Homo sapiens: one gene and its partner. The protein of the gene in region 1 interacts with the protein of each later gene in a pairwise test. Each region holds a gene or a part of one and is shown in the gene's direction. Other genes may lie near its edges.

The links. The genes of interacting proteins can lie anywhere in the genome.
Region 2: the proteins of EPCAM (region 1) and NEK7 interact in binary tests that used the Homo sapiens proteins (3 or more experiments, as listed by UniProt).

What each region holds. Positions count from the first base shown.
Region 1 is NC_000002.12:47,379,311-47,382,810, forward strand, and holds part of EPCAM (epithelial cell adhesion molecule precursor), read left to right. Parts: intron 1-458; coding exon 459-659; intron 660-3,500.
Region 2 is NC_000001.11:198,296,498-198,299,997, forward strand, and holds part of NEK7 (serine/threonine-protein kinase Nek7), read left to right. Parts: intron 1-629; coding exon 630-743; intron 744-3,500. UniProt on the Homo sapiens protein: Protein kinase which plays an important role in mitotic cell cycle progression. Required for microtubule nucleation activity of the centrosome, robust mitotic spindle formation and cytokinesis.

The sequences.
Region 1 (3,500 bases):
TTTGTGCATATATGCTCCCCTATGATATTTATAATTTACACAAATAAAAGTCTGTTAAAAAAGACTGTAACTGATATGATTAAAATATTTTGTTGAAACTTTAATATATTATAGTGAGGTATTTTCTGCTGAAATATGAGGTTTGCTTCAAAATAATCTGGGCGGGGGTGAAAGGATGAAAGGAAGAAAAGATGAAGTAAGAGAGGCTATGTGTTGTTGGCCTTGCATCTGGGTGATAGGTACATGGGCATCATTGCACTACTCTTTCTACTTTCGTGTATGTTGAAAGGTTCCTGTAATAAACAGTTTTTTAAAGTTCCAATAAATTAGATTGTTATCACTAAAACCATAAAGATTCTTGGCAGCGGTTCTTTTGGCATACAATTTGTATGTAATTATATGTGGCCATGGTTGGTTTCCTTAAATATTTTTAATTCCTTTTCTCCTTTTCAATACAGGTTAAAGGTGAATCCTTGTTTCATTCTAAGAAAATGGACCTGACAGTAAATGGGGAACAACTGGATCTGGATCCTGGTCAAACTTTAATTTATTATGTTGATGAAAAAGCACCTGAATTCTCAATGCAGGGTCTAAAAGCTGGTGTTATTGCTGTTATTGTGGTTGTGGTGATAGCAGTTGTTGCTGGAATTGTTGTGCTGGTGAGTACAGAACAAGTAAAATTTCATTTAAGGGTATATTTTTTCAAGAAAAAGTAATAGTGGCTGGGCGCGGTGGCTCACCACACCTGTTATCCCTACACTTTGGGAGGCTGAGACAGGTGGATCACTTGAGCCCAGGAGTTTGAGACCACACTGGGCAACATGGTGAAACCTTATCTGTAGTAAAAATACAAAAATTAGTCAGATGTGATGGCTTGCACCTGTGGTCCCATCTACTTAGGAGGCTGATGTGGGAGTGGTCAGTTGAGTCCAGGAGGTCAAAGCTGCAGTGAGCCATGATCACACCACTGCACTCCAGCCTGGGCAACACAGCAGGACCCTGTCTCAAAAAGAAGAAAAAAGGAAATATGAAAAAGTAACATCCATATTCCAAAACATTCAGGGAAAAAAATCTTCATTTTTAAATAATTTTTTTATGGTGAATGAATCTATTGTATCTCTGGTCTCTTTTTACAAAAGTCATTTTATGAAGCAAGAAAGGATGCTAATATTAAAAAGCTTGTGGCTGTGCACCTCACAGGCCAGTTAAATTGCCATCTAGCAGCAAGCGTCTTTCAGTTGTCACTGCAAACAATTCAACACCTAGTGCAAAATACCTGAACCCCCAAACCACTCAATAAGATGGAACAACAGAACACAAAGTTAACGTTAGCCATACAAAAGAGTTAAAAGTGATATGTGAATCAATACTTCCAAGTAAAGATGAGCAAATTGAATTTAACAGTGCTTCAGCAAAAGAATGTATTGCTTGAAGAAGTGAAAGGTTTATTTTAGGAATGTAAGGATGCTTCGGTATCAAGAAATCTTACTAACACTGGCCAGGTGTGATGGCTCAGGCCTGTAATCGCAGCACTTTGGAAGGCTGAGGCGGGTAGATCACTTGAGATCAGAAGTTCGAGACCAGCCTGGCCAACATGGTGAAACCCTGTCTCTACTGAACATACAAAAAAATTAGCTGGGCGTGGTGGCACATGCCTGTAATCTATTCGGGAGGCTGAGGCAGGAGAATAGCTTGAACCTGGGAAGCAGAGGTTGTAGTGCGCCAAGATCATGCCACTGCACTCTAATCTGGGTGACAGAGCAAGACTCTGTCTCAAAAAAAAAAAAAAAAAAAAAAAAAAAAAGGCCAGGCACAGTGGCTCATGCCTGTAATCCCAGCACTTTGGGAGGCTGAGGCGGGTGGATCACCCGAGGTCGGGAGTTCGAGACCAGCCTGACCAACGTGGAGAAACCCCATCTCTACTAAAAATACAAAATTATCCGGGCATGGTGTCTCATGCCTGTAATCCCAGCTACTCAGGAGGCTGAGGCAGGAGAATCACTTGAACCCAGGAGGTGGAGGTTGCAGCTGAGATCATGCCATTGCACTCCAGCCTGAGCAACAAGAGTGAAACTCCGTCTCAAAAAAAAAAAAAAAAAAAAGAAATCTTACTAACACAACAGAATTCAGAAAGAGGTTTGAGGGTATTTAGGAACTTAGATTTCCAGTTCAATCAACCATGTTTGGCTATCCATCTGGAACAAAATGAAAGTTGAATTCCTATTTCACTCCACCAGGCTGGCCATATTGCCCAGCTGTGTGAGGGTGGCATGTCCAGAGCACAGTAGTAGGAAAGGCGTTGGGCAGTGTATCCATTTTCAAAGACATTTACATATTTAAAAATACAAAAAAGTAAACTCCCAAGAAAATTAATTGAGGGAATGTTTGTACAACCTTGTGGTAGGGGAAATTATGTAAGGCAAGAAATCTGGAATCCATGAAAGAAAAGATACATATATGTGTATGTATATTTTGAGAGAGGGTCTTGCTGTGTCACCCAGGCTGGAGTGCAGTAGCATGATCATAACTCACTGCAACCTCCAATTCCTGGACTTAAGTAATCCTCCTGACCTATCCTCCCAAGTAGCAAGGACTACAGGTATGTGCCACTATACCTGGCTAATTTTTTAATTTTTAGTAGAGACGAATTCTTGCTATGGCTGCCGAGGCTGGGCTTGAACTCCTAGGCTCAAGCAGTTCTTTTGGCTTAGCCTCCCAAACTGCTGGGATTACAGGCATGAGCCATTGCACCTAGTCCTATATATATATATTTTGGCTTCATTAAAATTAAGCATTTTATATGGCAAAGAAACTGTAAAGTAAAAAATAACGATGGGCATGAAAAAAATATGGCGCATAAAGCAAAAATGGATATTATACATAATATACAAAGAGTTCTTACAAATTGATGAGGAAACCTAAAGAAAGAATGACAACAGGTAGGGATAGACAGTTAATAGAAATTTCAGATGGCAAATGAACACAAGTGGTTAATGCTGGAAGTCTAATTGTTCTGTAGAAATAAATGAAAACACAAGTGCAATAAGGAAGCACATTGTTATTGTATCATAGCATTGCTTGTAAAGGTGAATCTGGCCAGGCGTGGTGGCTTACGCCTATAATCCCAGCACTTTGGGAGGCTGAGGTGGGCAGATCACCTGAGGCTGGGAGTCCGAGACCAGCCTGACCAACACGGAGAAACCCCGTCTCTACTAAAAATACAAAATGAGCCAGGCATGGTGGTGCATGCCTGTCATTCTGGCTACTCAGGAGGCTGAGGCAGGAGAGTCACTTGAACCCAGGAGGCAGAGGTTGTAGTGAGCCGAGATCATGTCATTGCACTCCAGCCTGGGCAACGAGAGCAAAACTCTGTCTCAAAAAATGAATAAAAACAACAACAAAAGTGAATCTGGAAAATAGCCTGAGTGTGTATCAGTAAGAGAGTAAATTATGTTTATTGTATCTACGATAGGGAATAATGTGAATGGTGAATGAGTTCG
Region 2 (3,500 bases), on another chromosome or scaffold:
CCTTGAATTACAGCTATGACTCATAGAGCTTTTGAACATATTTAATTTAATGTTTTTGAGACATTATCAAAAGAGTTCTAATTCATTGTAAACTATTTGGGGATCAGTTATTGCATTTAAATTGAAAAGACTGCTTTTTCTCAGAATAACCTTTATCTTCAGAAACTATTATGCAAGAGAAAATGCTCTGCATTCTCTTCCCTATGCTAGATTATAATTCAGTTTTAACTTCAGTTTCATGTTTGTTCTGTATGGTTGAGCTACACCTTGTGATGACTGTTTTGTTGTGAGATATAGTAGTTGTTTTTGTGTCATTATAGGTACAAAGAGTTTTTAAATTATGTGTTATTTTTCTTTATTGTTTTATGTTGCATTTGTATATAAAGAAATATGCTAATTCTCTATTTTAGGGAATTTTAAATGTTGGAAAAAAAATAACCAAAAGTTGCAGTAAGATTTTTAACTCTTAATAAATTTCCTCAGAAGGGGATATTCATAAAAATCAAAATGCCCAGGTATCTCTATTTAAAATATTTGTGATTATTTTCTACCCCCGTATAATATACTTGATGAAATCACCTTTTAAGTTACCATCTAACTATATCAGTTTCATTGGGGGCATTTTACAGATGGCTGCATTACAAAGTCCTTTCTATGGTGACAAAATGAATTTATACTCACTGTGTAAGAAGATAGAACAGTGTGACTACCCACCTCTTCCTTCAGATCACTATTCAGAAGAAGTAAGTCATTTTCAGCCCACATGTTCTTCTGTTGTCCATTTTGCTAACATTTTTATTTTACCAAGAAATTTTACTTTATCCAAAAATGAAAATGAATGGTATAGGTAGCAGAACTAGCACTTTTTAATTCTGTTTTCATTCTCTTGGAGACTTGCTGTCTAAAGAGTTGACTCTGCAATTGATAATGTGTAGTGCAACACAACACAGCATGTGGTGTAAAATTGGCCACTTTCTAGGTGTGATAAGAATAGTAGCTGACTCTACAGTGTACTGAATCGTGCAAAGGGCAGAATTAATGCTCATACTTAGGCTCTAGTTAATCATCATGTCTGATGGCCCTTCCTAACAGGGCTAACTCCTTATTCTCACAGTCCCAGACCAGACCAGCACACAGTTGTAATTTTCTATTTTGGCAGAACTTCCCTTTCGTCCATGTTTTCCAAAACTCGAAACACGCATCTCTTAACTACATATCTCTGAGCCTTATTATTTAAGCTTTACCTTCTCTCCTTTGACAATACCTGTCCTATCATCACCTCACTGCTATACTCAGATTCTACTGGGGAAATGTTTCGAGGTTATCATTGTAGACATGTTTAAAAAGTGTGTTAGTTGTGGCTGAAAATCTTAGAAGGCTACCTTATTAAGATCTGAGTCTGAATGCTTGCTTGCTTGCTTTGGTAACCCATTGAAGTGAGTTGTTTTGGCTCTACCCTATGTCCAGTCTTTCATTGAACAAAACATCTCCCATTTTAGCCTAACGTATCATCATTTTACGAATATTTAAGGAGGATGTATGCAGAATAGCAGTATCTCAGGTCAACTAAAATGTTTCATATTAGCTCTTTATGGAATACTCATCAGGGACCTACCCAGAGAAAATAGTGTGTTGAGTTAGGACATCGCACCTTCTCATGAGCAACAGATTTTTTGCCTCAGGAAAATGGAAAGGAGAAAAGGAAAAATATAAAACAATTATAATGTTCACTTATTAGGTAATCATGTCAGTCTTTCTATTGTGAAACGAATAGCATAGGGTCTTAGTATTATGTAAGGAAATTTGAGTTCGTGTAACTTGAATAATAAATATCTCTAAAGAATTTTCACCACATGTAAAGCATTTGTGTTCCTAGAATATAATAGGCACTTTTTCTTCTGGTAGTTTTGATACTGATAATCAGTGATGCCTGTTTTTTTCTGCATAGCATTTGTATTCAGGTAATTAGAATAAACTGTTACAGAGCAGTGATGATAATTTAAAAGTATTATCTTTATTTGATGTTAATACTATTATGTTAGCCATTTTTAATTACTATTTTGGGTATAGACTATAAATATGGCATTTCACAAAACCAACTTCAGAACTATAGGCCTGGAAATACAGTGGGGTGTGAACAATAATGCAAAATGATAGCAAGAATGTCAGGGGCCTTTCTTTGTTGTGTCATTCATGCTGTCTTCTTTTTTCCATGAAGCGCATGAATATTTCACATATCTGCATCCTCATCCCCTATTCTTCTTGACTAATTTTCAGACTGTCTGAATTTGCATTTCACATGGTAGCTGATTAGGAGATGCCGAGTGCAGCAGTGAAGCCTCAGCAGGCGGTTACCATGGTGACCTTCAGCAGGATTTTAATGATGATACCACTAGTGGTTCGTTGAAGTCGGCCTGCCTGCAGGGCTACTTCACTGCAGCTAAGTGTGAAGTTGGATATGCGGATTCTCAGCCAAGGGGCAAATATCAAAGTCTGGCCCAGATAGAAGGTCTTAGAGTTGGGAAAGGAAAATAGATTCCACTTTTTACTTCACTCTATATAGTTACCAGTTTCGAAAAGAGCTGTAAAGCAAAACACATTATATGGTGTACTTTCCAAAAAAATGTGATTCCTCGTATTGGTAAAATGTGTTGTCATTCCCTGATGAAATAGAAAGCTGTAGTTTCTAGGTAAATGTGGAAAATAATTCTTACTAAAGAAATGAATATAAAAATATGCGGACTGTATAACAATGTTACTTTAATCTATTTAGTTATGTAGAAGAGTTCTCAAAACAAGAGCTTTGAAATGCAGATGTGCTAATAAATATTTTCTCTCCTTAAGCAGGAACTCAATTTGTAAAATAATTATTCAGAATTCATGGTAGCCAAAAATCCCAAATTTGGTAGTGCTATAATGTCTTAAATTTTTTAAGTAAAGTAGGCTTTTTAGATCTTTTAAAAATCTAGAATATCATTTAATTTGTTAGTATGGCAAAATACAGGAACTAATAAAAAGTGAAGTACAGAGTTTTTCAACAGTGAACTTTTAATTAAAAGACAGTTTATTTTGTTAATTTTATAGCTACAATGATAACAGAGTGTGTAACTATTTGAAAAATAAAAAAATTTAAGCAAATCAACTTATCAGGTATGTATTTATGAGCTTACCAAATTTGTGTAGCTACTGCCAAATTTTTAAGGTTACTGCCCAAACAAGATTTTAAGGGAGGATTTCATGAGAATACTAGCCATACCTGCCAGTCAGCCTCAGTTGATAGGAATCCTCAGGAACCCTACACAATTTATTTCTAGATATAGTCATTCTATCTAAGAACCTAGAGTTTAAAAGCTTGGGATTTTTCTTTTAATTTCCTATCTTATATTCTAAAACATACATAACAATTAAGCATTAAAACAAAAAATGAGAAGTTTTAGAAAAATAAGCCTGAATGTCAAATCTTTTCTTTTGAATTATGTGAGTCTTAGTGTGTACAAATA